Linked DNA regions of Homo sapiens. The protein of the gene in region 1 purifies or fractionates together with the protein of each later gene. This does not show direct contact. Each region holds a gene or a part of one and is shown in the gene's direction. Other genes may lie near its edges.

Region 1 (2,938 bases):
GGGCCGTGGCGGGAGGCCGCGCTGCTGGGAGCTCACGGCCCCCGCCCCCCGTCCCAGGCTCTTCCTCAGCCACCCGCAGACCAAGACCTACTTCCCGCACTTCGACCTGCACCCGGGGTCCGCGCAGTTGCGCGCGCACGGCTCCAAGGTGGTGGCCGCCGTGGGCGACGCGGTGAAGAGCATCGACGACATCGGCGGCGCCCTGTCCAAGCTGAGCGAGCTGCACGCCTACATCCTGCGCGTGGACCCGGTCAACTTCAAGGTGCGCGGGGCGCGGTGCGGGCGGGGCGGGGCGGGGCCGCGGGGCGGGCGGGGCCGCGGGGCGGGGTCGCGGGGCGGGGCGGGGTGGGGTCGCGGGGCGGGGCGGGGTCGCGGGGCGGGGCGGGGCGGGGCGGGGCGGGCGGGGCGGCCGGGGCCCGGCGGGGCGGGGCGGGGCGGGGAGGGGCTGGGCGGGGCGGGGCGCGGGGCGGGGCGGGCCGGGCCGGGGCGGGGTCGCGGGGCGGGGTCGCGGGGCGGGGCGCGGGGCGGGGCGGGGCGGGGTGGGGTCGCGGGGCGGGGCCCGGGCTAGGCCCCGCCCCCGCACTGAGCCGCCCCCGCCCCCAGCTCCTGTCCCACTGCCTGCTGGTCACCCTGGCCGCGCGCTTCCCCGCCGACTTCACGGCCGAGGCCCACGCCGCCTGGGCCAAGTTCCTATCGGTCGTATCCTCTGTCCTGACCGAGAAGTACCGCTGAGCGCCGCCTCCGGGACCCCCAGGACAGGCTGCGGCCCCTCCCCTGCCCTTCACCCTCCCACAGTTCCTGCCCTGACTCCAATAAATGGATGAGGACGGAGCGATCTGGGCTCTGTGTTCTCAGTATTGGAGGGAAGGAGGGGAGAAGCTGAGTGATGGGTCCGGGGGCTTCGCAGGAACTCGGTCGTCCCCACTGTCGTCGCGGCCTGGGGTTCACTTGGGGGGCGCCTTGGGGAGGTTCTAGCCCCTGAGCACCGGAGCTGCGGCCCGGGTGGAGCGGAGCAGTCCCGGGCCGGCCCGCGGCGTCTCCTGGGGTCCTTGAGTCGGACGGGCGTTTGTGCGTCTCCCGGCTTCCCATATCGCACAAAGATTGTCACTTCACTAAGCGTATTGGAAGCGTGTCGGGGCTCAGGGAACTTTTCCACAAAGCCTGACGTCCGAATCCCGGGACTCTGGCAGCTACGGGGGTCCCTGAGGCCGGTCCCTCCCCGACTCCTAAGAGAGTAGGGGGTTTCCTGCCCGGTGTTCTCTCTCCGGTTCCTCCCATGTGCTCCCTCCTGGCAGAGCAGTAACTTTACCCGAGGGGAGTAAACAGATGCCCCTAAAGTCTGCAGTAAAGGTGCCCACGCGCAACGGCGTGGGTCAATGCCAGAAACCCTGGGATCCCGGAGGTCGAGGCCTCCACACAGACGGGAACCCGGGCTGGTTACGTTCCCCGGCGCAGGCCGAGGGTCCCCGCGTTCCCGCCGCGCTCGGGCCGATAAGGACGGGCGGGGTGCCCGGAGGCTCTATAAGGAGGCCAGGGCGGCGGGCGCGGCCCCCAGAGCACGTCAGGCGGCGCCATGCTCAGCGCCCAGGAGCGCGCCCAAATCGCGCAGGTCTGGGACCTGATTGCGGGCCACGAGGCGCAATTCGGGGCGGAGCTGCTGCTCAGGTCGGTAGAGGCGGGGTCTCCGGGAGCTCAGGGAGGTGGAGATGAGGGTTTTGGGCGCGTGGGCCGCCAACGCCATCCAAGGTCCTTCGGGTGCGGATCCCCGGGCTCTGGGCGGTGTGGGCGCTAGTGAAGCCCCACGCAGCCGCCCTCCTCCCCGGTCACTGACCTGGTCCTGCAGGCTCTTCACGGTGTACCCCAGCACCAAGGTCTACTTCCCGCACCTGAGCGCCTGCCAGGACGCGACGCAGCTGCTGAGCCACGGGCAGCGCATGCTGGCGGCTGTGGGCGCGGCGGTGCAGCACGTGGACAACCTGCGCGCCGCGCTGAGCCCGCTGGCGGACCTGCACGCGCTCGTGCTGCGCGTGGACCCAGCCAACTTTCCGGTGAGGCCTTTCCGGCCGGGGCAATGGTGCAGCGCGCAGCCGGGGTGGGGGGGCTCTGGGGGTCCCTAGCGGGGCAGACCCCGTCTCACCGGCCCCTTCTCCTGCAGCTGCTAATCCAGTGTTTCCACGTCGTGCTGGCCTCCCACCTGCAGGACGAGTTCACCGTGCAAATGCAAGCGGCGTGGGACAAGTTCCTGACTGGTGTGGCCGTGGTGCTGACCGAAAAATACCGCTGAGCCCTGTGCTGCGCAGGCCTTGGTCTGTGCCTGTCAATAAACAGAGGCCCGAACCATCTGCCCCTGCCTGTGTGGTCTTTGGGGAGCTAGCAAAGCGAGGTCACTATTGTTGGCCAGTGAAGCTCAGGGACCTAAAAGGAGCCTCCTAGAACTCTCAAATGCGCCCCACCCCCGGAGGTTTGTCCTCCCATGGCGAGGAGTGCGATGGGGCAGAGGGAGCACTGTGATGTGGCGGGGGTAGGGAGGGTGGCCTTCGACTTCAACCCTTGAATCGGGCTTCCAACCATACTGTTCGCAAAGCACTTCCCCATTCACGCATTTATTCATTCATTCTCCCTCCATCCCCACTTCCTGCTGGGACCTGTAGATGCTAATCCTGGCCCTTTTTGCAGAGAGATGCAGAAACTGAGGTCCCAGAGCCAAATGTGCAACCTAATTCGTTGGCCCAGAGCAGAGGGCTCCGCAGACCTGTTCCTTTCCCCTTCCTTCCCCCATGGACACTTCCTCAGTGGCAAACCTGCGCTAGCCTGGTTAGCCCTCCCTGTGACCCTGCAGCCCTGGGGATGAGGTCGGGAGGAAGTCCTCAGTGGCCACAATTTGGCAGACAGAGCAGGTTTAGTCTTCCAGCCTGCTCAATGACAAGCTGTGCGACCC
Region 2 (3,651 bases), on another chromosome or scaffold:
GCTGTCCTATGCACAGTAGGATGTTTAGCTGCATCCCTGGCCTCTACCCACTAGTTGTCATCCCCTCCAAGTTGTGACAACTAAAAATGTCTCTAGAAATTTCCAAATGTCTCCTTGGGGACAAAATCTCCCCCTGTTGAGGACTGCTGGCAATTTTAGGAAGAGAAGTGCCCAGTGAGCAAAGGGATGTGTTGGGCTAGAAAGCCACAAAGGGCACAAAGAGATTGCCCAGGAGTCTGGTTGGGTCTGCCTTGCTGGCCTCTGTTCCAGAGTCTGACATGTGAAAAGAACTCAGTAGCAACTTGCTGTATGAATAAACAAATTCTCCATTTAACTCTTGTTTTTTCTTTTAAAGTAGAGTCTTGCTCTGTCACCCAGGCTGGAGTGCAGTAGCACGATTCCAGCTCACTGCAACCTCCACCTCCCAGGTTCAAGCAATCCTTGTGCTTCAGCCAACCAAGTAGCTTGGATTACAGGAGTGCACCACCATGCCTGGCTTTTTGTATCTTTAGTAGAGATGAGGTTTCACCATGCTGGCCAGGCTGGTCTCAAACTCCTGGCCTCAAGCGATCCACCCACCTTGGCTTCCCAAAGTGCTGGGATTACAGGCATGAGCCATTGCGCCCAGCCTCCATTTCACTCTCATGGAAAACATAGACACCTGTGAGCAAGACAAGGAGTCAGAGAGGGAGGGCTGCTGGCAGGCCAAGCACACCCTGGGCACAGGGAAAGGGACAAACCACTGCAAAAGGTCCCAGGTGGCCCTGCAGGCTGGGTTCAACACACGAATGAATCCTCAACCCATGGATGGAACCTGGCTGGCCATGGGCACAGCAGTAGGACACAGGCCAGGTGGGCTGGGCACAGCCCGGGGCTGCTGTGGGGCTGCATTCTGGCCCCTCCCTGATGGAGCCCCTTGCTTATGCTGTTGCAGCTGTGTCCCGTGATCGAGGCTTCCTTCAATGGCATGTATGCAGACCTCCTGCAGCTGGTGAAGGGTAGGTGCTCTGCTCTCTCTCCCACTTTTTCCTTTACTACGGAGCTGGCCTCCAGACCCTGACTCCACCAAGGGAAGGCCTCCCCAAGTCAGGCCTGAGCTGCAACTCAGGCCCAGAAGCAGGTGAGACAAGCATCAGTTGATCCCTGCCCCAGACGCGCAGACAGAAATTCGCCACGACTAGGACTTCATGAGCTCTTACTATTTGTGCAGTTGTCAGGTCAGTGGATGCCCCAAGTTCAAATCCCAGCTCTGCCCCTGACTTGCTCCATGACTTTGGGAAAGCTAATTTACCTCCTCATCCTCGGTTTCCTCATCCATAAAATGGGGCTTAACCATCCCTACAACATAGGATTGTTAGTGAGGAATAAAAGTCTACAGGAAAGTTCTGGGCACATAGCAGGTGTCCCTCTTGGCACAGAGAAGCACTTACAAATGCATGCTAAATGGATGGATGGATAGATGGATGGATGGATGGATGGACAGACAGAAGATGCTAAGATTACAAGCATGAGCCATCACACGCAGCCCCCGGACTAGTTTTTATGGATACTTTAGAAAACTGCAGCATCAAATAGTTCTATCCATCTCGTTGCAGTTTCAAATTTTCCCTCCATCCAAAGGGTTTGAGGTATCTGAGAAATTAAAGCATGGGTTAAAAACTGAGATATCTGGTTTAAAAAATAAAAATCAGAGATGATTCGAAGGGCAAAGACGGAAGGAAGTCATTTCTCCCTCCCCCAGCATAGCAGATACGGGAGGGCACAGGCTCCTGCCCCCACATCAGAACTCTGCCATGCTCAGGCCCCCAGAGTGGAAACTGGCGGAGAAGAAGAAAAGTCTACCAACTGCACTTTGGGATCAGAAGAGGCTCATTCCAAGGGCGACCAGAGAGGAGAAGGGAGAGCAGCATGCACTGAGCGCCACAGGGCATCTGCCATGGGCCACGCCCTCCCGCTGGGTGTTTTGTATAGGCACATCTCACTGACTCCTCAGACAACTCCATGAGGTGGCAGTCATGACCCCCCTTCACTGTGATGAAAGAGGCTCCGAGCAATGAAGTCACTGTCCAAGTTCACAGAGGCAGTTGGTGATAGAGGAAGACTTGAGTTCTGAGCGAGTGTCATTCGGATTGAGCCGTTACTAGGTGCCAGTTGTATACATGAAGCAGGAATTACTATTCTACCGCCGTTTCTTTCCTTTTTTCTTTTTTTTTTTTTTAATTCCCAAAGAGTTCTTCCAATCGTCAGATATTTGGTCAGTATTCAGAGTAGGATCCAGAGTTCACACATTACATTTTGTTGACAAGTCTGTAGATTTCTCTTTGTAAATCACATTTTTTTGTTGTTGTTATAGCCATTTTCGGGGACCTTATTGACTTTAATATACTTTTTTTTTTTTTTTGGAGACGGACCTTTTTTCTTTTTTTAAAGTAATTTTTACAGGAGTCATGCTCATCGTCTCTATGTCCTTCCGATTTTAGTACATGTGCTGCCCTGGCGGGCACTATACCCTCATTTTAAGACGAGGAAACAGATTCAGACGCGAGAAGAGACCAGCCAAGGTCACTGGGGCTCAAACCGAAGTCCAGCTGGCTCCTCCGCTGCCCCGAGGACGGGCCCGGAGGTCTCCCTGGAGCGGTAGGCGGCCGGTCCCTGGCCCTCCAGCACTCCCCATCCTCGGCCATACACCGGGGCAGGTGACACACCACCGCCACCTGGCGGCCAAGTGGGGAATTCTGACGCGAACACGAGATCTTTGGGGGGAGCAGAGGAGCCAGTTTGGATTTCAGAGTAGATGTTACCAGGCCTCTGGCTTCCAGCCTAAGCTTCCTTGAGATCCAGGTGCTCATAGGGTGTCCAGACCCAGAACCACCTGCATGGGGGACGCGGCTTTCAGTCTGGTAGGGGCGGTGGAGTGTTACATACAATAGTTCAGTTCCGTTCCAAACCGGGACTTTGGCATAAAACCGACTGGGTTCCCATGCTCTCATAGTATGGCTTTGAACAGGTCATTTCCCTTTCCTCAGACTTGGTTTCACCATCTGTAAAAGGGGGTAATAATAAGACCTACTTCCTAACGTTATCATGCAGATGAACCAGCTGACATGCAGAGGCCTGGCACTTAGTGGATGCTCGATAAATGTCACTGTCATCACTGTTTGCATCATTATTATCAACATCATTATTACCTGCTCCTCCCTACCTGCCCCCCCATGCAACAGTACAGCTCCACCTGGAAGCAGCCCCCCAACTTCCCCCTCCAATACTGCCCTCCACCCTCACAGAACTTTCTTCTTGTCCTTGAGCAGTGCCCATTTCCCTCAGCATTGACCGTCTGGAGTTTGACCTTCTGTATCCTGCCATCAAGGGTGACACCATTCAGCTCTACCTGGGGGTGAGTGTCCCAGGACCTTGAGGGTGAAGTGGGGACATTGCTGCCCTTCTCTGACCACCAGGAGTCAGATAGCATGGGCCTGTGTTAGGAGAGAAAATCCTGGTCACCATTAGGACACGGGCTGATCTAGAAAAATCACTGCAGGCTGAATATGTCCCATGCAAGTTTGTTTTGTTTTGTTTTTTTGAGACTGAGTCTCACTGTCACCCAGAGTGACATGGGGGGGCCCGAGTGGGGACACTGGGCCCTCAGCCTTT

The links.
Region 2: the proteins of HBM (region 1) and BPIFB1 purify together in Homo sapiens (affinity purification with mass spectrometry; 2 studies listed by BioGRID and IntAct, with this or other methods). This does not show direct contact.

The regions. Positions count from the first base shown.
Region 1 is NC_000016.10:164,425-167,362, forward strand, and holds HBM (hemoglobin subunit mu), read left to right. Parts: upstream 1-1,553; 5' UTR 1,554-1,573; coding exon 1,574-1,665; intron 1,666-1,843; coding exon 1,844-2,048; intron 2,049-2,155; coding exon 2,156-2,284; 3' UTR 2,285-2,340; downstream 2,341-2,938.
Region 2 is NC_000020.11:33,296,591-33,300,241, forward strand, and holds part of BPIFB1 (BPI fold-containing family B member 1 precursor), read left to right. Parts: intron 1-934; coding exon 935-998; intron 999-1,526; exon of another isoform or gene 1,527-2,254; intron 2,255-2,480; exon of another isoform or gene 2,481-3,263; intron 3,264-3,308; coding exon 3,309-3,394; intron 3,395-3,651. UniProt on the Homo sapiens protein: May play a role in innate immunity in mouth, nose and lungs. Binds bacterial lipopolysaccharide (LPS) and modulates the cellular responses to LPS.